Regions from separate parts of the Homo sapiens genome. Here all the other regions are linked to region 3. The links come from fine-mapping of genetic effects on gene expression. A gene starts in region 3. Each other region holds a variant in brackets. All regions are shown on one strand. Distances are from middle to middle. Region 1 overlaps LOC105378247 (a long non-coding RNA gene). Region 2 overlaps GXYLT1 (glucoside xylosyltransferase 1). Region 3 holds the start of GXYLT1 (glucoside xylosyltransferase 1). Region 4 overlaps LOC105378247 (a long non-coding RNA gene). Region 5 overlaps LOC105378247 (a long non-coding RNA gene).

What was found. PIP is the estimated chance that this variant, and not a neighbour inherited with it, causes the effect. A credible set is the group of variants that fine-mapping cannot tell apart.
Region 1: its variant is the best candidate, but not a certain one, in a credible set for the expression of GXYLT1 in monocytes after R848 (Quach 2016, PIP 0.60).
Region 2: its variant is the best candidate, but not a certain one, in a credible set for the expression of GXYLT1 in whole blood (INTERVAL, PIP 0.60).
Region 4: its variant is the best candidate, but not a certain one, in a credible set for the expression of GXYLT1 in monocytes (Quach 2016, PIP 0.68).
Region 5: its variant is the best candidate, but not a certain one, in a credible set for the expression of GXYLT1 in spinal cord (GTEx, PIP 0.88).

Annotation. Positions count from the first base shown.
Region 1 is chr12:42,008,826-42,013,933 of GRCh38, forward strand. The region is part of intron 2 of LOC105378247 (a long non-coding RNA gene); the gene reads right to left. Among named protein-coding and RNA genes, the nearest start is that of GXYLT1, 130 kb to the right of the region's middle. The variant G/A (reference allele first, on the strand shown) is at 2,800.
Region 2 is chr12:42,086,645-42,091,733 of GRCh38, forward strand. GXYLT1 (glucoside xylosyltransferase 1) reads right to left here. Exons shown (of 8, transcript NM_173601.2): 8 at 1-1,303. The coding sequence ends at 1,142. It also overlaps the pseudogene LOC101929308. Among named protein-coding and RNA genes, the nearest start is that of GXYLT1, 56 kb to the right of the region's middle. The variant A/G (reference allele first, on the strand shown) is at 2,532.
Region 3 is chr12:42,141,709-42,146,816 of GRCh38, forward strand. It overlaps GXYLT1 (glucoside xylosyltransferase 1), which reads right to left and starts at 3,166. Exons shown (of 8, transcript NM_173601.2): 1 at 2,718-3,166. The coding sequence starts at 2,938. RefSeq lists silencers at 2,554-2,783, 2,864-3,363 and an enhancer at 3,524-3,593.
Region 4 is chr12:41,998,940-42,004,047 of GRCh38, forward strand. All of the region lies in intron 2 of LOC105378247 (a long non-coding RNA gene), which reads right to left. Among named protein-coding and RNA genes, the nearest start is that of GXYLT1, 140 kb to the right of the region's middle. The variant G/A (reference allele first, on the strand shown) is at 2,727.
Region 5 is chr12:41,988,703-41,993,810 of GRCh38, forward strand. LOC105378247 (a long non-coding RNA gene) reads right to left here. Exons shown (of 4, transcript XR_944875.4): 3 at 187-478. Among named protein-coding and RNA genes, the nearest start is that of GXYLT1, 150 kb to the right of the region's middle. The variant C/A (reference allele first, on the strand shown) is at 2,085.

The sequences.
Region 1 (5,108 bases), 130 kb before region 3:
ATTCCTCAAAAGTCAAACATGATTTCAGTTTGGGGTCATCCACCAAGCATGAAGGTTGTGGATAACAGTATTATTAATATTCCATAAATTCTTTATACAGTACTCAGTGGAAAATCATCATTTGTAATATTTATCTGGTGCTTGAATGAGAACATGTGATAATATGACAATTCAATTTTCTACTTTGACATTTCAAATATGACCAAGTCATGATAATCAATCAGTAATACGTTTATCATCCACATGAAGCCAATTATGCACCAATAATCAGTGAAATTTTGAACTTGTAACCTAGACCTGTGTGCAGTAACCGACAGTGAAGGTGGAGACATTTGCTGTAATTGTGCTGTTATTGCTTCTAACAAAATGTTTTATACCCGAAAGGGCAGGCAGCGCTTTTAAACCCTCCATTCCAGTCTGGCTCTTTATTACAAATTGCCTTTTGAATCATAAGCTCTTTAGAAGGGCAATGTGAGGTGCAGTCATAGAAGATGGCATGAGTCCATGACTCTGGAGTCGACTAGACTCTGGTTCAAATCCTGGCTCTGCAGTTATTAAGCAAGTAACCTTGAGCAAGAGATTTAAGCTCTCTAAGCCTCAGTTTCTCCACCTATAAGGGGGGGATGGTCATAACTACCTTGCGGGGCTACGGAAAGGTTCACCGTCATGTAGGGCACATGGTGCACAATAAACAGTAACTATCATAACCAAAAGAATGTAACCAAAGCTTAAAAACTAAGATCATGTTTTTAAAAGAATAATTTTTAAACTTCTTATCTAGGCTGGGCACAGTGACTCACACCTGTAATCCCAGCACTTTGGGAGGCCAAGGCAGGCAGATCACCTGAGGTCAGGCGCTTGAGACCAGCCTAGCCAACATGGTGAAACCCCATCTCTACTAAAAATACAAAAACTAGCCGGGCATGGTGATGGGCACCTATAATCCCAGCTACTCGGGAGGCTGAGGCAGGAGAATCACTTGAACCCAGGAGGCGGAGGTTGCAGTGAGCCGAGATCATGCCATTGCACACTAGCCTGGGCAAAAAGAGCCAAACTCCATCTCAAACAAAAAAAAAACTTCCTATATAGATGAATTAATGTTAAGAGAAATATTTAAAACGTAGCACCCATTATAATCAAGTATCTTTTAAAATATTCTGATTACTAGACAACAATTATATGCACTATTTTAATAATATCGTAAAATGGTTGCACTTTGTTCTTTGTTTATTGCATTCTGAAATCCCATGTTAGAATTATAGGCATATAAACCAAGGCTATTAAGAATGCCTGGTAAAAGCACTTACTGATGCATCATTTAGCCTGTATTTTGTCTTTGGAAGAGAGAAATCCAAATGGCTGCTTCTTTCAAATGTCACCCAGATACATACTGTTCATTTGAGATCATCTAAATTATGGGTGTGTGTGTGTGCATTTTAACTCAACTTTCCATGGCACCCCACAGAAAGTTTCCATCCTCTGTGAGACAATTGAGAACACCATCTGGGACAATTGAGAATACCGTCTGGGACTCAGATGAATTATGATGTTGCCAATATACATGATATGCATCACTATAGGAGGCTTCCCATGAGCCTCTTCTCTGGTCCCAAACAGTGGGCCTCAGACCTCATGGGACTGCAGTTATTGCCAGAGATCCTTGAATCACTATGAGCACAGTCATTCACTGTGTGCAGACTACATACAGCATATTATCACACACAGATGTGTGTTTCAGATATCTATTACTGTGTAGCAACCCCCCCACCCATGAGAAGCCAAAAAAAAAAATGTATTCTTCTCTTCTAATTCTGTGGGTGGATTGGTGGTTCCACTGCTCCACATGGTACTGGCTGAAGTGCTAGGATGTCAACAGTCATCTGGGGGCTTGGCTGGGCTGGAACATTCAAGATGTCATGCTCGTACAATTGCCTATTTTTGGTTCTTGGTGGGAAGCTCAGCTGAGGCTGTCAACCACAACACCTATATGTGAAATTTCTATGTACATGGGGCTTCTCAGAGTGGCTAGGTTGCAAAAGATAGCACCCAAAACGGACGTATTTTTAAAAGGCAGAGAGAGGCAGCAAGGCTTCTTATGCCCTAGCCTTGGAAACCACACAGTGTCATTCTGTTGCTCAAAGCACTCACAGGACCAGCCTGTGATTCAAGCAGAGGGCAATTAGACCTCACTTCTCAATGAGAGTTCTGCTGTTTTCCATGTGTCTTTCAATGTGTAATTGACAAAATACAAATTTATTGAAGGGCATATTGGATTTTTAGTAAATGTCAATCATTAAATATTTTTTCAACCAACTCATAAAAGTGTAAAAGCAATTTAACAAGATGATTAAGCATTCACGCTGTGCAGTTAGATGGGTCTGAATTTAAATCCCTATACCTATTGGCTGTGTAAACAGGAGAACATCACTAAGCCTCAATTTCTCCACATCCAAATCAGCAATAGAAACAGACTTCCCAGTGCAGTTCTAAAGATTGCATTAAAAAAATGCGTGGTAGATGCTTAGCACTCAAGATAATTAGCTCTTGTAGTTGATGTGATGCCAGGAGGCTGCTCCTGCTGACCATTCTTCCTCCTCTACCTGCCTCCCTGACCCCATCCTTCCGCTCACTTCAACTGATGTTTACATAAACCAATGGGATGGCTACAATGCCCGACATGTGCTGTGGCTGGAAAGCGTCTATAGCTAGAAACTCACTGGAAAGATCTATTTTAGCACTTGCTTATGCATAATATTTAATAATGACAAACATAATTTAAGGGGCAAAATATTGATAGAA[G/A]AAAAGGGAAAAATTTAAAAAGTAGCCCTACTATAATCAAGTTTTTTTTGTTCGTTTGTTTGTTTGTTCATTTGTTTGAGATGGAGTCTCGCTCTGTCACCCAGGCTGAAGTGCGCTGGCACCATCTCGGCTCACTGCAACCTCCGCCTCCCAGGTTCAAGCAACTCTCCTGCCTCAGCCTCCCAAGTAGCTGGGACTACAGCTAATTTTTGGGGCTAATTTTTTGTATTTTAGTAGAGATGGGGTTTCACCGTGTTGCCCAGGCTGTTGGCGAACTCCTGAGCTCAGGCAATCCACCCACCTCGGACTCCCAAAGTGCTGGGATTATAGGCATGAGCCACCGCGCCCGGTCATAATCAAGTATTTTTTAAAAACTTTTCTTAAACCTCATTGCCTGACAAAGAAGTCAGGAGCTAATCCCTACTTAGTTTAGTAATCACAAGTGATGACTTAGTTCTGGCCTACTTGCCATGTTTCTTGGGACAAAACTGACTGAGCAGCAGAATCCAAGGACTATGGTGCATAAAGAGTTAAAAGTAGTATCTGAGTGCACAGCGGTTAGATCAGGTCTCAAGCCAAGGAAAGCAGGGCAACACAGAGCAAATAACCAGGAACCAAAAGAATCAGCCTGTGTGCTTAGGGTAACAAGCAAGAGCAGATTAATTAAATGGGGTAGTGGGGACAGGTAGGAAATCCAACTGGATGGAAGCCAAAGTTCAAATCTCAGAAGCATCAGAAGGTCACAGAAAGAATTCTGCAGCTTCCCTGGGGCTGTTCCCCTTACTGTCTGTTCCAAGCAACTCTTTCTCACCTGGACAGGAAAATGGCCCTGTGTAGCTTCTGATCCAAGTTCAGTCCAATCTAGCCCAAGTTTAGCCCAGTGAAGTTCGTGGTAACCTGAGAGCTTAATGCAGATTTTAAAGTGAGAATTTTGCTCAATTCAAATATTTTCTCAGAAGGAAGTTCTTTGGCCCTGGGCTATTCCAGTGACTATTTCATCAAGAGTGAACTGGCTCTGCCTACAAAATGTATGAGGTTTCTCCTCCATATATGGAAGCCAACAAGGGTTATCCACATGAGAGAAGCTGTGGAATCTTGCTCTGTCACCCAGGCTGGAATGCAATGCAGTGGCATGATCTTAGCTCACTGCAACCACCACCTCCTGGGTTCAAGCAATTCTCCTGTCTCAGCCTCCTGAGTAGCTAGGACTACAGGCACATGCCATCATGCCTGGCTAATTTTTGTATTTTTAGTAGAGACGAGGTTTCACCATATTGGTCAGGCTGGTCTCAAACTCCTGACATCAGGTGATCTGCCCACCTTGGCCTCCCAAAGTGCTGGGATTACAGGTGCAAGCCACCATGCCCAGCCTGAAATCTACTTTATAAAGTGTTTTGGAACCCCTGAGGGTGAAAATATTTATAAAAGTTAAATGAACAGGCCTCCCTCTGGGAGACACACCTCTGGCATGTCATGGTAAAGGTAAAATAGAGGTAAAATAAGGTTCTAACAAAGCTCTCCTGGTGTCCCCAACATAAAGCCTTTTTTAAATGCTGCTGGAAGGATCTGCCTACTTCTGCATTCCACACTGCAGTAGGTGCTGTTATATATTAAGACCCCAATGAACAAAGCATTTTCAGTAATGGTATTTCTCCCAGTCCTTTGTCTATACATACAAATTTGCTGAGCCGCCTGTATTTATCATCCCCATGTTTGGTGCTATATATTAATAATGTTGAACAACAGATTTATAGACAAGGCATTAGACACTGAAATTAGACTCACACTAAGACTTTCATATCTTACTGCACTATTTGTTATACTTTTGAGAGCAACTTTTATATGCCCACTCTTTCTTAATTTATAAGCTAGAAGAGAGAGCCATCATTTTATATTCCTGGTGGTACATTTTATATTCTGTCAGTACCACCAAACAAGAAACAGCTTGCTAGGACTCCAGGTCCCTTGGAGAATTCCTCCAAAGCATTGATAGTCAGGGAAGCCCTCTAGTCACTACTCTGACATGTATTGCTTATATATTGAATTTTTGCTTAAGCTCAAGAGATTGTAGTTGGATGATTGAATGGCTCAATGGAATCTCATTGCTTTTTGCCCCCTCTCTCTGAGGGAGATGCTTTTCCAAAAAGCCTCATTGGCTAGACTACATTTCCACTGAAAAGAAGGGTTTCCCTTCTCTAATCCATGATACAAGCCTGCTAGTAATCCTTTGACAATATTCAAATGGCTATCCCACACCTTCAGGTAGCCATTTACTGCTTAAAGCCATTGTATCACAGAAAACTTGGTTT
Region 2 (5,089 bases), 55 kb before region 3:
TCTTAGGTGATATTCAAAAATGCACATCAACCCAATTAAAACCACATTTTCTACAGCTGGATGTAACAATCTTATTCCAAATCATCCACTTAAGTTGTTTAACTTACTTAAAGTAAGGCTCTAGACATTTGCTTCTTCAAAAGTATCTTGCAAGGCCGTTATGAGGTAGAAGACAAGTTTAAATGGACCATATTTTTCTACTCCATTGTAACTAAAATTACTACTCACAGGAAGTATATAGCTTATGCATTTTGGTCCATCACACTTTCCACCATCATGAGTATACTCTTAAGGTTCTCACTTTACCATCAGCATAATATATTTTGCTTCCAGAATGCCCAGTAAAGCTGACGTTTTTCATTTAAAGTGATTAAAAAAAAATTCCCCAAATATCTATTTAACAATCTTAGATCTGAGTTTTGGCAAGACAGTTTAATGCATACAAAATGAAACACTACATTTCTCACTCTCTCTCACACACAAACACGCACACACAGATTAAAATCCCAAAGTTTTCACTATTTTTCCTCTACCTTACACAGCTCAATTTTTAACATGCAGCTTACTTGTAATCTAAAAATAATTTTAAACATGATTGTCATAAAAATATTTTAAAACAGAGATGAAATGTATAAAGGCACACATAGATTGTCAATGGTTACATCAGTTACATCACATTTCTTCAGAAACAACAGACCTGTTTCTGCTCCTGTAAACAAACTTTTTTCTCACACTTTTAAAGTGAGGTTAGTGCTGACATAAAATTATTGCTCTACTCACAGTCTTGAGTGTTGGCACTGTTTGAGGTACATTTTCTCCATCTACACACCCCTACCACTCTTGAGAGTATGAGTCAACAGAAGTCTGCAGGTTAAACCCATTCAATAGTATTTTCATCAATACTGGAATGATAGCAAGTAACATTACAAAACATCAGAGATAAAAAATGTTCAATGTTGAGGCCCAAGATTTTAACTTATTCTTCATTACCTGAAAATACTGCTTACTTAACTTCTTTAGGAAAAAAAAAATTATTCTGGAGATGAGTAATTCCTTCCTGAATACTTCATCCAAGACGATTCCTTCACACTTATCTTCTGATTCTTTGTTTTCATCCATTTGATTAAGCAGTCACCAAGAATCACTTTTCCTTTGGTGATCTGGCATAACGATCTCTTACACTTTTTGCTAGTTGTTTGATAAATATTTTGTAAATTTTTCCACAGTATGTATGCACTGTTTTTTGTAGTTCCAGTTCTAAAGGTTTTAATAAGGAACGGATGTTGTCATCTTCAAAAGAACACTAGAGAAAGAAAATTTTAAAAAATAAAAAATTTAAAAGGCAAAGGTACATATGTAAGTTCAATTATTTTCCAAACTTCTTCAATCAGTTTAATATGAACGATCTCCATTTAACGTCTCACAGAAATTAGATGTTTAACAAATATTTTCAATAAATTAAACAGAACTATTATCTCCCATTAAAGAAAGACAGCCATGGTAAATCTCCGGGGGAATCCTGGAGAACATGCGCAAGGGCAGAGAAGACTGAAATACTGGTTAAGAAGACAACCAAAAGCCCTACGAGTATCTCGGTGAAACTAATAAAAGGTGGACTGGCTAAAAGAAGAGCTTTACCACACACCACACCCGCGTCCCACCTTTTAAAAACCACTCTGGCAATAATACTGCTGAGGCTGGAATGGAAGGAAATGAAGTAAAGGCATATGGTGGGAGGAATGTAAGATGATAACATAGTTCAGCATGTCCCACAGAACCCTAACTGCACAGAAGGATCCCAACAATAAACACATTTGAAAACTGCTAAATATTAGGCACTCTTCATGGGGATTCAGACTAGCACAGGAAAAAGTCTAAAAAGTAAAACAGAAAATAAATCTGTTGAGTGTTGTCTGACCTGTTTGTCCCAAGATATATTTTTGGCTAGAGTCCTTCTTTTACTATAAAATATACTAATATCGAGAAATAAATTTTGGAAAAGGCTGTGGTAGTAAAGTGGAAATAATAAGTAATCTTTGTATTTTCAACCAGGTATTTTGTGATTTAGTATTTTCAACTAGGTGTATTTTCAATTAGAAAGATGGATGGGGCTTAAAAGTAGAACATTTTATATGGAAGTTGAAGTTGGTGAAAAATGCAAAATCACAAAGGAAATTCAGAACCAGAAATCTCCCAGGTTATCCCTGAGGTTCACTAGCACGCTGAGGGAGAGGAAATGAAAGAACCACCCCAAGCACACTTAGTGAGTCTGCAGGAAGCTGCAGTCAATCTACAGAGAAGAGGATGAACTTGGATGTTTGTTTAAAACATGGGTTTTGTCACTGTAGAGATGCAAAGAGATCCTAAACTTTGGCATCTTTTGAGCAAGAAAAACTGTAAGCATTAACTGCATAAAACCATCACCCTTGGAGTGATTTTTAAAAATCAATCACACATACTCAAGATAAACGTCTAAAATTGTTTTGAAGATAAAAGTTTTAAAAAGAGATGGGGAAACTTAGCCAGGAACA[A/G]TGTAATAAAAATAACAATAGCACACAGAGTGCTTGCTACCTACATGCCAGGCACCATTCTAAGAGTTGTATATGACTGCATGTTCTCATTCATAGGTGAGAACTGAACAATGAGAACACATGGACACAGGAAGGGGAACATCACACATCGGGAACTGTTGTGGGGTGGGGGGAGGGGGGAGGGATAGCATTAGGAGACATACCTAATGTAAATGACGAGTTAATGGGTGCAGCACACCAACATGGCACATGTATACATATGTAACAAACCTGCACGTTGTGCATATGTACCCTAGAACTTAAAGTATAATAAAATATATATACATATAAAAGAGTTGTATATGTATTAACACATTTATAATATAGGTAATATTATCTCCATCTGACAATGAAACAACGAAGGCAAGGAGAGAGGATTTTCTCAGTTATAAATGCAGTAAGTGGTTAAGCCAGGATTCCGTCCCAACAGTCTAGCTCCAAAAGTCCATGCACTTAATTAACCACCAGACAGCACTACTTATCCAAACATTAAGCAAACAACACCATGCCAAGTCAGTTCAAAAATCCTGTTGAAGGACGAAGCTCAATGAATGGTGGAAATCTGGGGAAAGTGCTGTATTGTAAACAGATACACAAATTTGTTTGGGGTTAAAAGTGTAGCCAGGTTGAAGAAGGTAAACTTCACCAAGTGATACTTTCAAGAAATATTTCAATGTGCACAAAAAACACTTGAACAACTGGTTGAGTGGCAGAAAATTATGGGAAGCCCAAACTACTATGATCATTATTTTTACTATATGACAATAAAATGAAAGCATTTAAGAATAGAGGAAGACTATTGATTCCCAGGAGTATGTAGTACTCGAGATTAAGTTTCTTTGTTTTCATGTGATTCAAATCCCAGTGTTTGTGGTTAAAAAATGTTTTCTTCTTCACTGGAAAAAAAAAGCCATTTGATGAATATTTTCTTAAATAAAAACAGTGTCTCATTAGTTAGACCTCTTTCTGCCCATCATATGAAAAAAGCAATCTGACCTCTAAGGAAGAAGATAAATTTCCAAAATTTCCACCTATATAAACATAGCCTAAAGACACTGCATTCTTCCATTTACATAATCTGCAGTGCCTGCATATTTGTACAGTACATAACCTACATCTAGGTGTCCCTTTCCCAGAGGCCACACGTGCCCTTACCTGACTCCAGACCTCTTTTTATACTATATACTATGCCTGACTTATCCTTACCTTTTCTTCTCTGCCTGGTACTCATCATCCTTACAGCTTAGTTCAAATGTCAGCTCCTCTGAGAAGCCTTTCCATGTACAGTTAATCGTTCCCTCTTTTCAGTGGCACAGGGCCCAGTACACTGATTTTTAGGAAGCTCATGCTTTATACTGTCAGTTGAACGACATGAAATAGTGAAGCTGTGATGACCATAATTAGGCAATTTGAGGTATTTTCAAAGAATAGTACATCTTTGGAAAATACAGGAGAATGGCAGTTCAATCCAACAAATCCTAAGTGTTCACTATATGCAAGTCAGTACTATGGGAAGGAAAACATTCAAGACTGCTTTGCAGAGAGTTTTGCAAATATAAGCAAGGTGTAAAGTAAATCAAAGTTAACACAAAACATCAAGAAATATAATTCAGAATGAAATGCATGATGCAGAAAATACCTTATAGAGCCATAAAATGTTTTGTTCTGATTTTGAATTTGTAATTTTTAAACATTTTTATTCACTCAACAACTAATATTTAACAAATATGCATGGACTATAAAAACAGATTTGCTGGTAGACATAGCCATGAATTCACACTTTAAAGATGGTTCACATCCTTTATAATTCATACTGTTCACTGCATTCCATGGCTATGACTAAGCCTCTGTCTGAAACTTGCATAAATATCCTTGTCTGAATACAATTCTTTTAAAAATTACACTTCTTACTGAATTACAGATAAGGAAATATAAAAACACTAAGCAGGAGCATCATAAAAGACAGATTAACTTCATTAAGTTGAAAAATGAATAAATGTAAGCTGTAGTTAACACAGACCCAAAACAAACACAGAAGATAATTAATCATCTGAAATCCTTTTAAAAATAAGATTTTTTTAAAAAAAAATCAAGTGTAATTAATCAACTTAAAACTATTACTCGTATTTTTAAAGGTACACACTTATAAACCAAAGAAAAGATCAAATAAAACCAGGGAAACTTAATTCTCTAATAGTAGATTTTTTTTAATACTCAAAGGAAACAAAGGAAATCTCATTTTTATAGGAATGCATTTCTTTTCTATCCTGCAAAGTCTCAGAACCCCACAAGCACTTTTCTTCATTTTTATCACCTTCTGACAACCCATAATAAAGCATTATTAAAATACAGTATTAATTTCTGAAGGCATACAAAGCCTGCTACATTAAAATGAACATCAACACTAAATTTTATAATTCATCAGTGAGTATAGTCATACCATGATAAACTGATTGTTTAGAAGCTGTATCTGTCAAGTTTATAGGACAAGAAACTTAGCTACTAATACACTAGAACTG
Region 3 (5,108 bases):
CATTTTACAGGTGAGGAAATTAAAACACAGGCATGTGACACAATTTAGGCAAAGTCTCACAGCAACCAGAGCCAGAATACTGAGAACACGGGTTTATCTGACTACAAGACCCATGTATTTTCTGATTATTAAAATCATGGCTTCAAACAGAATACACTAACGGATAAGAGATTCCACTGAAAAACTGTTCCTTTCATTTTAAAGTTCTTACTTCAAGGACTCCAAGTCTTTTGTCGTCATGAAATTCTATACCATGAATAGTTTTTATAAGATCTGACCAATGGAACTTACTGGGTACAAACCTAGATCCCGTGTTTAAAATAAAAAGAGAGAAATAGTTATAATCTTTCAAGTAAGATGTTATCAAAAAAGGCAAAAATGCAATAATACCTAAGTACTACTGAAAAGAGGAAGCTGCTGGCTTGCCCCATAGCCCCATTGCCCACTGAGTCCACTATCTAAACTAGACCCTTATCTTTCTTTACAGAAAGAGCTCTTGTATAACACTCCAAGGATACAGTTTCTAATCCTCCTCCAACACTGATTTGCTTTGGATCTTGGCCAAATGATTTATACATGAAGAGGTTAGGGATTTCTATACCGTATCTCATGGTGGCCAAAAAAGTTAATTTTTTTTTTTTTTTTTGAGACAGGATCTTGCTCTGTCACCCAGGTTGGATTACACTGGTGCAATCATAGCTCACTGTAGCCTTGAACTCCTGGGCTCAAGTGATCCTCCCACCTTAGCCTCCCAAAGTGCTGGGATTACAGGTGTGAAACACCACATTCAGTTAATTTTTTTTTAATTTTTTTATTTTTTGTAAAGATGGGTTGTTGACGAGGCTGGTGTCAAACTCCTGGCCTCCAGCAATCAATCATCCCCACTCAGCCTCCCCAAATTCTGGGATTACAGGCGTGAGCTACCGAGCGTTGCCAAAAGTTGATTTAATTCTATGACATTTCTATAAAGATGTTATAAATGACGATATACAAAATAGAGTCCTGAGGTCTTAGTAATTTGCGTGATCTTAATCTAACCATAGAGTAAAACTTCACAATCCAACTTTTCCACGTTGTTCCCCTGCCCAAATGGTTTCTTATGCGCGCAAATGTGGTGACATGCTGTTCTTCATCACATTTTTACAAAGAGAGATAAATACACCTATAGTTCTAACTTAGATGTACGCCTCATTTAAAATAAAGAGTAATGCTACTCAAAGGACCTAAAAAAGTACAGTATTTCGGTTGACTCAATCCTGACACATAAAACTTAACGTTTCAGTAATGATTATATTGGATGTTTATTAAAACTGAGGCTATTTTCGAAAATTTCAAATAATTTTATTAAAATTAGCTGGTCAAGCAAACAAAATTTGTAAATTTCTGTCACAAAATAAAATATCTAAGACCAAGGCACTAAAAATGTGATGTTAACATCAGTCTAATTTCATTCAATATTTAATTAAAATGTTGCTTCCTTACAATTCTACCCCATATAAAAATAATTCCTTTTCCATAATTGCAAATGCTTCACAATAACATACTAGGCCATAAACAGTTTAGCTTCAACCTGTCATTTTTCACGAGCTCATTCAAGTCTTCAGTGACTGCTTTCTCCCAGGACAGACAACTGAGGGTCCTGATGTAGGAATTACCCTGACTGTAATCAAATCTCAGGGTAAAAACATGACAAGTCCGCTTTCCACGCTGCTCCTCTGCCCAAACTTTCCCCTTTCATTCTGGGAATGACCATCGACTCTCAAAATGATGTTAAACAACAGCCCACAACTGATCTATACTCCCTCTTCCGACAAACCCTATACTTCTCTATATCAAAGCAGCATTTGCCAAGTCTTGGTAGGGAGCACTTCAGGTCATTCCCAGAGAGATGCCCATACATAAGGTGGAAGTGTCCATGTTGCAAGGCAGTGCAAACGCTCAGATTTCAAGCATTCATAATGCGTTGACAGAAACATTTTTTTTCTATTTAAATCTCATGTTGATTCCCACTCTGGCAGTGATTACGTCCTAAGTCATTACGTCGCTTTTTAAATACCAATTTGTCAAGAAAGGTAACTCCATCCCATCCAACAACAGACTTGAGCACGCCAAGTATCGCTCATTTTTCTTAATTTGCTCTAAGTTTCTTAATAAACTGAGTGTTTCCAAAAGAAAATTTCACAACCCGCACAAATGCCATTTCCAAATTTAACTAACCATGGCTAATACTTAGAAGTGTAAGCGTTAACACAGGAAAATCAGCATGAGGGACAAAATACACACACATATACACTCACACACACACACACAATCCTTAAACACTGAACTAGGGCGCCAGCCTCATGTTTAAATATCTCAACTTGAACTCCACTGAAACAAGAGGAAATTCTCACTAGCCAGGCAGCAGTAAGGCTTTTGTGGACACCTCTTATTTTCAAAGAACCCTCTTTTTAAAAAGTTGAAAATTAATTTCTAACTGCTTTAAAGGGCGCATGACTGGGTCAAAAGATAAACACAGAAAGTGTAGGACACTCTCAGGCGGGAGCAGCGCAGGTTTAGCCCCGGCCGGAGGGGAAGGAGGGAAATGAGTGAGGGGTCAGAGACAGGAGGAAAGACGCGGGAGACGCGGCACCCACCGGCGAGCAGCCCGGGCTAGGCCGAGCCCGCGCCCAGCGCCCCGCGCCCGCCGCGTCCCCCACACCGGGAACTGCCCGTACCTGTCCGACACGCCGGGATGCGCTGCGGGGCCCGCGACGCCGGCGCCTCTCACGGCGCCGCGTCCGCCGCCCGCGAGCCAGGAAGCCACCGCGGCCTGCGGCTTCCCGCCACCGCCGCCCGTTCCTTCTTCCAGGGACACGGCGAGCTGGCTGAAAGCGTAAAGGAGCGAGCAGAAGCCGCAGGCCACACACAGCACCACGACGCGCAGGTAGCGCCGCATCGCCCCGGCCGCGCTCCTCCTTCGCCGCCGCCGCCGCGCCCGCCCCGACGAACTGGAGCGGAGGGAGGGGCACCGCGCAGCCGCGGGCGCAACAAGTTCCTCACCCGCAGCCGCCGCCGCCGCCTTGCGCCCGCTCCCTTCCTTCCCTCCCCGCCCACCACCTAGGCGAGCGCAGTCGCGGCTCCGGAGCCGAAGGACTACCCGCCCGGAAGCCTGGACACCGCCTCTGCCGCCGCGCGCTCAAGGGTCAGCGGCAGCGACGCAACCCCGCCCCTCCCCCGGGCGGGAGGGCTGGACGCGCCGGCGCAGTTCGCGTGGGAGGGACGCAGGGCTGGCGCGCAGAGGGTGGTGTGAGTGCGCGGAACGCGGCGCGCCTGAGGGCTATAGCTAGCGCAGGCCGACGCGCAGGTGAATGGGAGCCCTGTGGGTCTCGACCGCCGAGAGAGGGGGAGCGAAAGCCTCAGGGCTCTGGAGGCAGTTGACCTAAATTCTAATTATGGTCCTTCCACATGGTAGTTTGTGACATTGGGCAACCTAAATTCTCTGAGCATGTTTCTTCGTCCCTAAAATGGAGCTACTATCCTCATCATGGGGTGGTTGTAAAGATTAAACTGTTTAACGCTCGAAAACCGCCTAACACTTAGAAGACACTTGACTAGGCCAGTTTCCTCTCCATCCTCCCCCAGCCTCTAAGTTTCTGTGATACTATAATGTGCACGAGCCATTTTCACCCCGATAAGCTCATTGCTTCGTGTGTTTGGTATGCGGACCTTACCTCTTGCCTCCCAGCAGACAGTGAGTTCCTGTAAGGCAGGGCTCTTCCCTTTGACCTTTTTGACCTCCCTCACAACTCATTATTTTCATGTGCAAAACAATTAGTATTCTCTCCACAGAGCTTCTTTCTTCCCCAGTTCTTCTCCCTCTTCTTCTGTGTTTCCACTACGTTCATTCATTGACCATTTATAAAGCATCACTTGTGCCAAGCTCTGTGTGAGTACCTAGGGGTATAAAGAGGCCTAAGTGGAGCGTGGGTGGGACAGCGGATACTTGTAAATAAGCGCAACGCAGTGATAACAGACTTAAGATCCAGGCCTGTAAGGGTGTGGGCATACACACAAAGGAACAATCAGTTCTATCTGTGAGTATGGTCAAGAGAGACTTCATAGCAAAGGTGGCGCTAGAGTCTTGAGTCGGGTAAGGGAAGTAATTCCAGGCTGAAGGATCAATAAACAGGCTCTTGTGTAGGGAACTGTTGAGAAGTTTGATACCACCAGCTAAGTGAATGCAAGAGAGGGTATGATGAGCGATAAGCGCGTAGAAGGGGCCAGATATTTGAGTGCTTTGTTTAGCACACCAAGGAGTTTGAATTTAATCTGCAAGACATTAGTGAACCATTGAAGGGTTTTTAAATAGGGAAGTAACATGATCACAATTGCATTTTAGAGAGCAGATTCTGGCTGTAGTGTGGAGGCTGAAACAGAGAGAGGAGAGATTGGAGGCAGAAAGCAGCACCAGTGCCAAAAAGTGAGGGAAGGGATACTTAAAAATACACACACACACGAACACACATTCATGGGGAAAAATCATGCGTTTAACTGCTGAAATTGCATCTGGGGCGTTGAAAAGTTTGGCCATGAGATACAAGGTGGGGAAATGCTGCGCAAAATAGTAGCAGTCTCCATTTGGATCCTTGGCTCCCTATACCAAAAAAGTAGTGGTTCTGTGACCATGATAAAGTCACTAAACAAATTTAAGGTTCAACTTCCTCCCCTTCTTGCTTTACCTGATAAAAAATGAACATTAGCATGCTATCAAGATGTGTAAAGAGAATGAGAACATACATTTATGCATTCAATAAACATTTATTGAACATATTCTACATGCCAGACAAGGGGCTCTGATGCAGAGTATTCAGAAATAAAAGGAGTGTACTGCTCTCAAAGGGAAAACAGGCAAATAGAAACCACAAGTATACTAAATTAATACTTCCACTACACCTTACACTTCTTAGAGAAATGAAGATAAACTTAACGAAGTATCCAGAATGATAGGAAAAGCATTGATAAGAATGAAAATACCTTTTGAGAGAAAGCTGAAAGATATGGTACCAAGAAACTAGAGTAAGAGCTAGTACTCAAAAAATGTTTAATTTAAAAGATACTAACTATAA
Region 4 (5,108 bases), 140 kb before region 3:
TACCCACCTCAGCCTTCCCCACTCCCTGCCAGCCCCCAATTCCCTGCCTCTGTAACCATGGAGATGCCTGGAGTGGGTCCAAGGCCGGGAGTGGCACCCACAAAATCCCCTGAAGGGCATAAGAAAACACAGTTGCTGGGGCCCACTCCAGAGTTCCTAATTCAGTTGGTCGTGGTGGGCCTCAGAATCTGCATTTCTAACACATTCCCAGGTGATGCTGAGGCTGTGGGACTGGGAACCACACTTTAGGTACAACTCATCTAGGTTCTCAGGAACCAAGGCTCCCTTGATGGGACTCCAGTGGGAATGCCGTTGTGCTCAAAGACCTTTCTGCGGAATAGGATGTGATCATATACTATCCTGAGAGGATACTGATCATGTCATACTCCATAGAAAGACTCCAGAGCTATGTGATTTCCAGGGAATTCTCTACGTGCACACACTACACACACACACACACTTGCAGGAAGATGCAGGGCATGCTGGGAATAACTCAAATTAGGCACACAACTTATTGGCTTGAACAATTGACAGACTAGCGAAAGAATAAGTATAAAAATAAATAATTAGAGAACAATGTGAAAAGTGCTTTAGAGACAGTATCAAATGCTGTGAGAGTCCCTGGACTGAGACCAGAAGAGTTAGGAAAGATTTCAAAAAGGATGCAGCATTTGACCCAGGACTCAAAGGATGAACAGAAGTGGAAAGGATGAAGCAGGGAGTTCGGCAATCAAAGGACCAGATGTAAAACCAGCCAAGACAGCTGAAAGAGCCTGCTACTCACAGAAAACAAGGAACTTCATGTGTCTTCAAGGGAATGTTTGGAGATTCCTGTATATAAGGCCTTAAATACCAACCTGAGTTGAATCTTGAAATAGCTCAAAGATTTTCAGGTAAGATGTGTGTTTGCATGAGAGACCAGCTCATTATTCTTCTAAAACCAAATTTGGGCTCCAGTCCAGTTCACCGAAGCTGTCTGTGCCCTTCGAGGCCATCCTGGAGTTTGAGGAATGGTTGGCCACAGAAATCAAATAGGCTTAATACATTGGCTGGGAAATTGAGACATCAGAGACTATTCCACACCCTGCCATCTGAAGATACTGAAAGGGTAGGATCTGGCCGGGCACAATGGCTTACGCCTGTAATCCCAGCACTTTGGGAGGCTGAGGTAGGCGGATCACTTGAGGTCAGGGTTTCGAGACCAGCCTGGCCAACATGGTGAAACCCCGTCTCTACTAAAAATACAAAAAAATTAGCCAGCATGGTGGCGCACGCCTGTAGTCCCAGCTACTTGGGAGGCTGAGGCAGGAGGATCACTTGAACCCAGGAGGCAGAGTGTGCAGTGAGCCTAGATTTCACCACTACACTCCACCCTGAGTGACACAGTGAGATTCTGTCTCAAAAAATAAATAAATAAATAAAATCAAAGGGTCAGTTCTGTTCAAGACCCAAGAAGCTCACCTGGAGCTGACCCTGATGGGAGCCTTCAAAGCTTGGCCATGTGATCAGGAACCATGCAAGCCAGCCACCTGAGTGTCCTGCTGGTGATGATGAGGCCATGGAGACCGTGCTTGATGGGCAGCCACTGGACTGGACACACACGTGAGCCAAGTGCATAATAATGATAAAACGTAATAAGATCGCTACTGTACAGGTATAAATTTTGCAGTCACAAACTCAGATGTACAAAAATGGAACTTTAAAAAAATTGTGTCCCTAAAATCCTGGCCACCTTAGCTGTCAAAGTGCATTCCACCTGAAGCAGAAAACTTAGTCTAGTCAGTTTCAAGAAAACTTAATCCAAAGTTCTCACCCTCTGCTTTTAACTCTTTTTTTTTTCAGCCCACCAGAGATTCTTTCAGTCGCAGGACCTAAAGCAGCTGCCTGTTGGAATAGAGCGTCCTTTCTCCATCTCAATCTGCCCCAGTCACACGCTGTGTCCGCTACTAATATAACTAATATATACTAATATAACAGAGGTTCTCACTGTTCTGTCACTAACCACACTGTAGCTGCTGCTGAGCCATGCAGGCTCCGCCCTCCTCTCTGGGCGCCAGAACCATGCTGCTCACCTGGAGCCTTCTTGTCTGGATGGCAAGGCCTCCTGGGTCTCTGGCCACTCTCAGCCACTTCTTCACCCCTCCCAAGACTAGAGAAAACTTTCCTCACTCTTCCACACTACTTCAGGGGCCAGGAAACTTGATGATAATGGGCTGTAAACTCTTCTCTGCTCATGCAAACCACTCCACCATTTTTAATCTACTGGGAACTCCATTGGTGCAGGGGACCCTGGATCTAAGTGGCTTTCTGTTCTCTCAGACTTCACCTAGGAAGAAAATCACAAGCATCCCTGCCTTGGAACTTTCCTCTAGACTTACCTGGGCTTTCCATTGTCTAATCCCTGCCAAGGACTCATCCCAGGAGGTGTGGGATTCCTTCTCCAACACCCACCAGCTGTGGTGATAGCCCCTCCCTCTAATTCACCTCCTACTACCAACCAATTGAACTTTTCTGTCTTTCTAATCAGTAAAATTTGCCACTTAAAAAAAATAAACTTCAGGCCGGGCGCGGTGGCTCACGCCTGTAATCCCAGCACTTTGAGAGGCCTAGACAGGCGGATCATGAGGTCAGGAGATAGAGACCATCCTGGCTAACACGGTGAAACCCCACCTCTACTAAAAACACAACAAATTAGCCGGGCATGGTGGCGGGTGCCTGTAGTCCCA[G/A]CTACTCGGGAGGCTGAGGCAGGAGAACGGCATGAACCCAGGAGGCAGAGCTTGCAGTGAGCTGAGATCACACCACTGCAGTCCAGCCTGGGTGACAAAGCGAGACTCCGTCTCAAAAAAATAAATAAATAAATAAACTTCAGCTACTTCCAAATTATTTGGATCATATACCTTGATCATTCATTTGTTTATCAAATATGTATTGAGAATCTAGGTGTTAAGTATGTTCTAAGCACTTAGGAAGAAGCTCTACACTCATGAAGCTTACATGCTAGAGGGAAGAGATGAACTAGAAACAAAAAATATGATATTTATTATTACACAATTACAATTAGCATGTGTATGATAAGATTATAGAGCAGATGTATTGATTAAATTGTGTATTAGAAGATGGTATGTGCTGTGGGAAAAAAATCCCAATGCTAAAGGCTGAACTCAAACCAATAAATGAGATTCTATAGGTTGGGGGCCATGGCGTTGGTATTTTTTTAAAAGCTCCCCACTTTTAATGTGCAGCCAGACTTGAGAACCTCTGCCTTATGTCCATGAAAGCTATCACTATTGCTCTGTGGGAGTTCTTTTATTTATTCATTAATTCATTCAATAAACATTTAGTGAGCACCTACTATTTTCTGTCATTGCTCTAAACACTGGAGATAAATCAATGAAGGAAAGAAACAAAGTCCTTACTCTCATGCTGTTCACATACCAGAGGATTATTTTTTCCTTCAACATCTCATTTAATTCTCAAAACCTATGTATGCAGTGATCATTATTAGCCCTATTTCCCAGGTGAGGAAACTGAGCCTTGATCAAGTTCAGAAACTACTAAGTGACAGAGCCAGGACTCACACACAGGTCTGGAGGACTCAGGAGACCTCTCTCATAATAGCATTTCCCAGGGAAAGGCCTTTATTCATGCTTTTTTCATTTTATTTTCAGTGCTTCATGATGGGTCTGTTTCATGATGTAATTTAATGGATTAAATTTGAACAGCTGGAAATTGTGTAACTGATTACATTCAGCTTCCTTCACAAATTGCTAATTTGATTCACACCTGCTGATGTGACACCTGGAGGGAGTAGAAGTGGGTGGGTGGTTAGGCCTCTCCCACATATGTGCTAACTGATTGGGTAAAATAAAGGTTATTTTAAAATCTCAAATGGGCCATGACTTGTGATTAGGCAGACCACGTAGCTATCATTGGCTTACCTGTTGGAAACCTGGAAATTATTTTAATCAAAGCTAGTGAATTCTGAAATCAATTTTTATTAAATCCCTCTATATATGAGATCATATATTTATAGGACATTCTAACTTTTGATCAGCACTTCATATTCAGTACAACTGTGAGTTATTTTAAAGACACATTCTGTTATGAGCTCAACTGTGTCAGCCTTCTCTCCATAATTCACATGTTGAAGCTCTAACTTCCAGTACCTCAGAATGTGACTGTATTTGGAGATAAGGCCCTTCACTTAAAAGCCTCTAAGGCCCCAAATCTATCTCCAAATACAGTCACATTCTGATTCAGTTAAAATGATTAAGTCGCATTGTGATTAAGTTAAGGTGAGGCCATTAGGCTGGGTCCTAATCCAATCTGGCTGCTGACCTTATAAGAAGAGGAAATTTAGAAACACAGAGACACCAGTAATGTGTGTGCACAAAGACCATGTGAGGACACAGTGAGAAGGTGGCCATCTGCAAGCCAAGGAGAGAGGCATCAGGAGAAACCAGACCTGCTGACACCTTGGTCTTGAACTTCTGGCCACCAGAACTGTGAGAAAATAAATTTCTGTAGTTTAAGCCACCCAGTCTGTGGTATTTTGTTATGGCAGCCCCAGAAACTAACACACATGCATAATACATTTAATTCAACAAAAAATTACCACTCTATACCTGACATAAAACTGTCCTGTTGAGAGATCTCATGGCCCTGTATTCAAGGAATTTGCAGTCTTTTAGCGAGACATACACACGGATGAGACATTTAGAGAATAATAAGAGGTCCAAGGCCCAAATGAGCAGGAGAGGAAGTAAGTGCTACTCCAAAAGGGTCAAAGCCAAGATAGACTGGCATGGGTCACAAAAAGAATAGAGTTTGAAAAGCAGGGAAGTGTCAGGTAGGGAGGGGAGGTGGAATGAACAATAGTATGCATTTGATCCTGCAATCCCACTACTGAGTATCTACCCAAAGGAAAAATCAATATGTCAAAGGGATACCAGCACTTACATGTTTATCACAACACTATTCACAATATCTAGAATAGAGAATCAACTTAAGTGTCCATCAGTAGATGAATGGACAAAGAAAATATGGTATATATACACAATGGAATACGATTCGGCCATAAAAAAAAGAAATCATGTCATTTGTAGCAA
Region 5 (5,108 bases), 150 kb before region 3:
CTAAAGACTTTCATTCCCACTATCAAACACTTTTTTGCTTCTACGGTGTCATTTCCTTTAGCCCATGTTAAACTTTTTGAATGACATAATTTACAGCATTGTTTTATGTACCTATTGTGACACAACAAACTGCCTCAGAAGTTACTAACTTGAAACAACAATTTGTTATTTTTCTCAATTCGGTACCTTGGCTGGGCTCAGGTGGATGGTTCTTCTGTTTCACATGGCATCAGCTGGGATCACCCTTGCAGCTGCCTTTAGCTGGGAGCTCAGCTGGAAAGTCCAAGATGGCTTCACTCATACATGTGGTGAGTCTGTGGGTGTGACTGGGATAGCTGGGCACTGTCTTGGCTTCTCTCTCTACATATCTTTCAGCTGTCTTGCTCAGTCTTCTTTACATAGCAGCTGGCTCCCAAGAAGTGAAGCAGAAGTTGCCAGGCCCAGGCTCAGAAATCCAGAAGGTCACCTTCACTGCATTCTGTTGGTCCAAGCAAGTCACAAGGTCAGGCCAGGTGCAAAGAGAGGAAAATAGAGCATATCTTTGGATGCGGACATCCTTCCACAAGGATAGGGAGAAATTGTTGGGAGGAAGTATTGGTGACCGTCTTTGAAAGTACCCACCAGAAATATTATTTGTAAAATCTGGGTTTCAGAGTCCATAGAAAACTACTCAATTATGACTTTTTAGAAAATATCTCATCCATTCACAAACAAAAGTTATTTTGTGTAAACATTCTAACAACTTTTACCCTTGATTTCCTCGGAAACATTTATTTGAGGATTGTAGTAGATTGGATAATGACCTTCAAAAAGACATCCAAACCCCTAGAATCTGTGAATGTGACCTTATTCGGAAAAAGAGTGAAGATGTAATTAAGAATCTTGAGAGAAGATCTAACTAGATTACCCAGGTGGATCCTAAACCCAACGACTAGTGTCCTAATAAGAGACAAAGAAGGAGAAAACACATAGAGGAGAGGTAACATGAAGATGGAGGCAGAGGCTGGAGTGATGCGGCCTTACATCAAGGAAGCCAGTGAATGCCTGGGGCCACTGGAAGCTGAAAAGGCAAAAATGGATTCTCCCTTACAGCCCCCAGAGGAAGTATGGTCCTGCCAACACCTTGATCCAAGACTTCTGTCCTCCAGCACTTTAAGAGAATACATTGCTGTTGTTTCAGGCCACCCAGTTTTCTGTAATTTGTTATGGCAGCCATGAGAAACTCATACAAGTACCTTCCCTCTTTACGATTAAGACTAAATGTTTGCCTACCATTTGGGGATTGTGATTTATAAGGCAATGGCTGTGACTCTTGGCTCCTATTTCTCCACACACTCAGCAGAGTTATCGAGTAAGGGCTTTACCAGAAAACTCACCTCTGTGGAGGTCCTGAGCCAATCCTGACAGGAACACATAAGATGTTAGAAGTCTCTGCCTCGCCAGATCCTTCTGAAAACATCTTGCTGCTCACAGTTACCTGAGCCACAGCCCCTCCCTACATCACCTTCGCTCATTCCTGGGTGGACTCAAGCTTTGGGATCAGACAGAGTTGAAGTTGCAACAGGATAACATACATGTAAATTCTCAGAGCTCTTGCTTCTTTCTCAGTAAAATGGAATGATATCACCTTCCTCACAGATCTACTTCAAAAATTAAAATTAAGTAAACCATCTGGCACATAGTAGGACCTCAAGAAATGGTGCCCATTATCACTACTACTTTTAAGCGGTACACAGTTGCTTATCTGTTTCATATACCTGATGCTCAGTGGGGCTGGAGCCATACTCTAAACCCCAATCTGATTAGCAAAGCCTCTGACCCCTTTCCTAACCTTTGCCAGCTAATTTGCCCCTCCCAAATCAGCTGCCCTCCATGACCCTCTGGCCTCAGCCTCCCAGGTAGCTGGAACTACAGGGATGCACTATCAAGTCTGGCTAATTTTTGTATTTTTAGTAGAGAGAGGGTTTCACCATGTTGCCCAGGCTGGTCTAGAACTCCTGGGCTCAAGTGATCCTCCTGCCTCAGCCTCTCAAAATGCTGGGATTACAGCCATAAACCACCATGCCCGGCCCGGCTTCTGATTC[C/A]GACCTTCCCCTTCACACAGGTTTTACTCTCCAACAAACTTTTCACACTCCTAACTCCAGCTCCTCCTCACTGGACCCAGCTGACATCTACCCTACCACAGTGGTTCTCAAAAATATGTAGTCCCAAAACCAGCAAGCATCATCAGCATCACCTGGGAACCTATTAAAAATGCAGATCTCAGACCCTAACCCTAATCCAGACCTACTGACTCAGAAACTCTGAGGTGGTCAGGCCCAGCATCTGTATGTATGTAACAAGCCCTCTAGGAGACTCTGACGCACGCATTCTAAGAACTGCAGCCCTACTATATTTCAGTAAGAGTTCACATTACCTGATTGCCTCTGCAGTAAATGAATCACCTGCCTGGGGTTCTGTAAGAGATGCTGCTACCCACCTCTGCAGACCACTCAAATAAAGAGGACTACATCGTTTGCTGGGCAGCAAGACCTTGCCAAAACCCAAGGCTGCTTTCTTTTTATTATTATTATTATTATACTTTAAGTTCTAGGGTACATGTGCACAACGTGCAGGTTTGTGACATATGTATACATGTGCCATGTTGGTGTGCTGCACCCAGTAACTCGTCATTTACATTAGGTATACCTCCTAATGCTTTCCCTCCCCCCTCCCCCACCCCACAACAGGCCCCGGTGTGTGATGTTCCCCTTCCTGTGTCCAAGTGTTGACACACTGGATAGGCCCAGTTTCTGTCTCTCCAAACCCAGACTCTCACCCGCCTAGCCACTCCACTGGAAGTAATGGAATCAATGCAGTAAAGTTAACAGCAAGGTCAAAATCAGAGTTTGAACTGTAAAGGTACAATATCTGACATTTATTTTGCCAACTGCTTTCTATAGCATCTCAAGTGTTTAACAAATAATACCTTCTAATATTTAATTTTTCAGGGCTCATGGTGTATTTGATGCTTCATAGGATGTGGATTCAGAGATCAATTTTATCCTGCTCTTAAATTCTGCATTTATCTTGCCAGGACCCCGTGAGCTAGGCTGTAAAAGCAAACCATGTTGACAAAATTCGGAGCCTACTGTAAGCACCCAACCGCTGGGGTATTCCTTGCACTGACCCACCCTGGAGCCAATCCTCAGCCTCTTTGGCCCCTCCTTGAAATAGTTCAAATAGATTCTGTTATTAAAGCTTCCTCCTTAATTACTGACATATGTGCAATTCAGGTTACTTTCTTGCAATTATGTTATTCAGCAATAATTGGATTTCTAGTTTTAATTGGACCCTAAATTAGCAATAGCTTTCATGAACACCATTACAGTGATTTCTAGCTATAGTTTTTGCTGCTTTTTGAGTACATTATATTTCAAACAGAATGAATCACCAGGAAAAGAAGTCACAGCTGCAGTGAACTCTTGCATGGGTTCCTATTAATGATTAAGAGTTGGGTGCTATTCTGTTGTAACTAAACATTTGCTACAACTATTACCCACTGAGCATTGCTGTGTCACAAGGCTGCCTCCTGCCCAGGATGAGAGCACATAATTGTGTTGGGATGAAGATCCAGCCACATGACTAGATATTTACTCAGCTAAACGGGGAAGAGAATCTTTTTCTTACCACCTGCTACTGCAGATAAACACTTGAAAATAAAACAAAAGAAAACCAAACTCTTCTTAAAAGCTGCTGAAATCAAAATTTTGCTGAAACTACCAAAAGCATAATCCCATTGCTATCTTCCTTTCCTAAAGGGACTATTTACTCAAATCAGTGCAACAAATATTTGCTGAGCATTGGCAATGTGCTGGTTATTGAAAAGGATGCTAAGCTAGTAAGAGACAACATAGTGATGTGGTTAAGAGCATGAGATTTGGAGTCAGGCCTCCTGGGTTAGAATTACAGCTCTGCTGCTTCTTGGCGGTATGACCTCCAGCAAATTACTTACTCTCTCCGTGGTTCTTTTTCCTTATTTGACAAATATACCGCAAAGTTCTTGTGTGGATTAAATGACTTCCTACATGTAAAGGACTTTTTAAAGCACCTGGCACATGGTAAGCACTTACTAATGCTCATTTTATTATTCTAGTTCAAGGTAACAAAGACGTCATCTGTCTTGTCCATCACTGTATTCCCTAGCCTCCAGAATAGTGACTGATTGATAGATGATAAGTGCTCAAGAGATGTCTTTTGTCTAATAGGGAAGCCCAACACTACAGGAAGTGCCCAAAGAAGGGGGGAATTTAAAGAAGAGAGGAATTAGATCTAGTTTGGGAGTGTATCAGTCAGGATCTTGGCAGGAAACAGAGCACATTCAAAGGGGATGATTAAAGAGCATTTCATGAAATAGCTACTTAAAAAGTTATGGGGGCAGATTAAGAGAAACAAACAAAAATGGTGAAGGATCACAGAGTCAGCAAGAACAGAGAACTATTACCACCCATCTTAGTCCATTTTCATGCTGCTATAAAGAACTGCAGTATTCTGGGTATTTTACAAAGGACAGAGGTTTAACTGACTCACAGTTCTGCATGGCTGGGAGGCCTCAGGAAACTTACAATCATGGTGGAAGGGGAAGCAAACATGTTCTTCACGTGATGGCAGGAAGGAGAAGTGTCTAGCAAAGAGGGAAAAGCCCTTTATAAAACCATCAGATCTCATGAGAACTCACTCACTATCATGAGAACAGCAGCATGGGGGTAATAGTCCCCATGATTCAATTACCTCCCACCAGCTTCCTCCCACAACATGTGGGGATTATGGGAACTACAGTTCAAAGTGAGATTAGGGTGGGGACATAGCCAAACCATATCACAGCCTCAGACTCACAGGGGCCCAAAAGAGCTGTGGAGAGAGCTCCTGACAGGAGCAATGGCCTTCAGCAACGAGTACAGTCTCTGCTGACCTCCAGCCACACAGGAGGGGAGCCAGGGGAATCAAGACCCTGACCTCTCTCTCATGTCCTCTGATCTTGTCCTGTTGGCCAAACCCAATGGGAAGCAATATATGTGATTCTTTATTTTTGCATTAAATAATAAAATCTAGACACAGGTATAGTAATG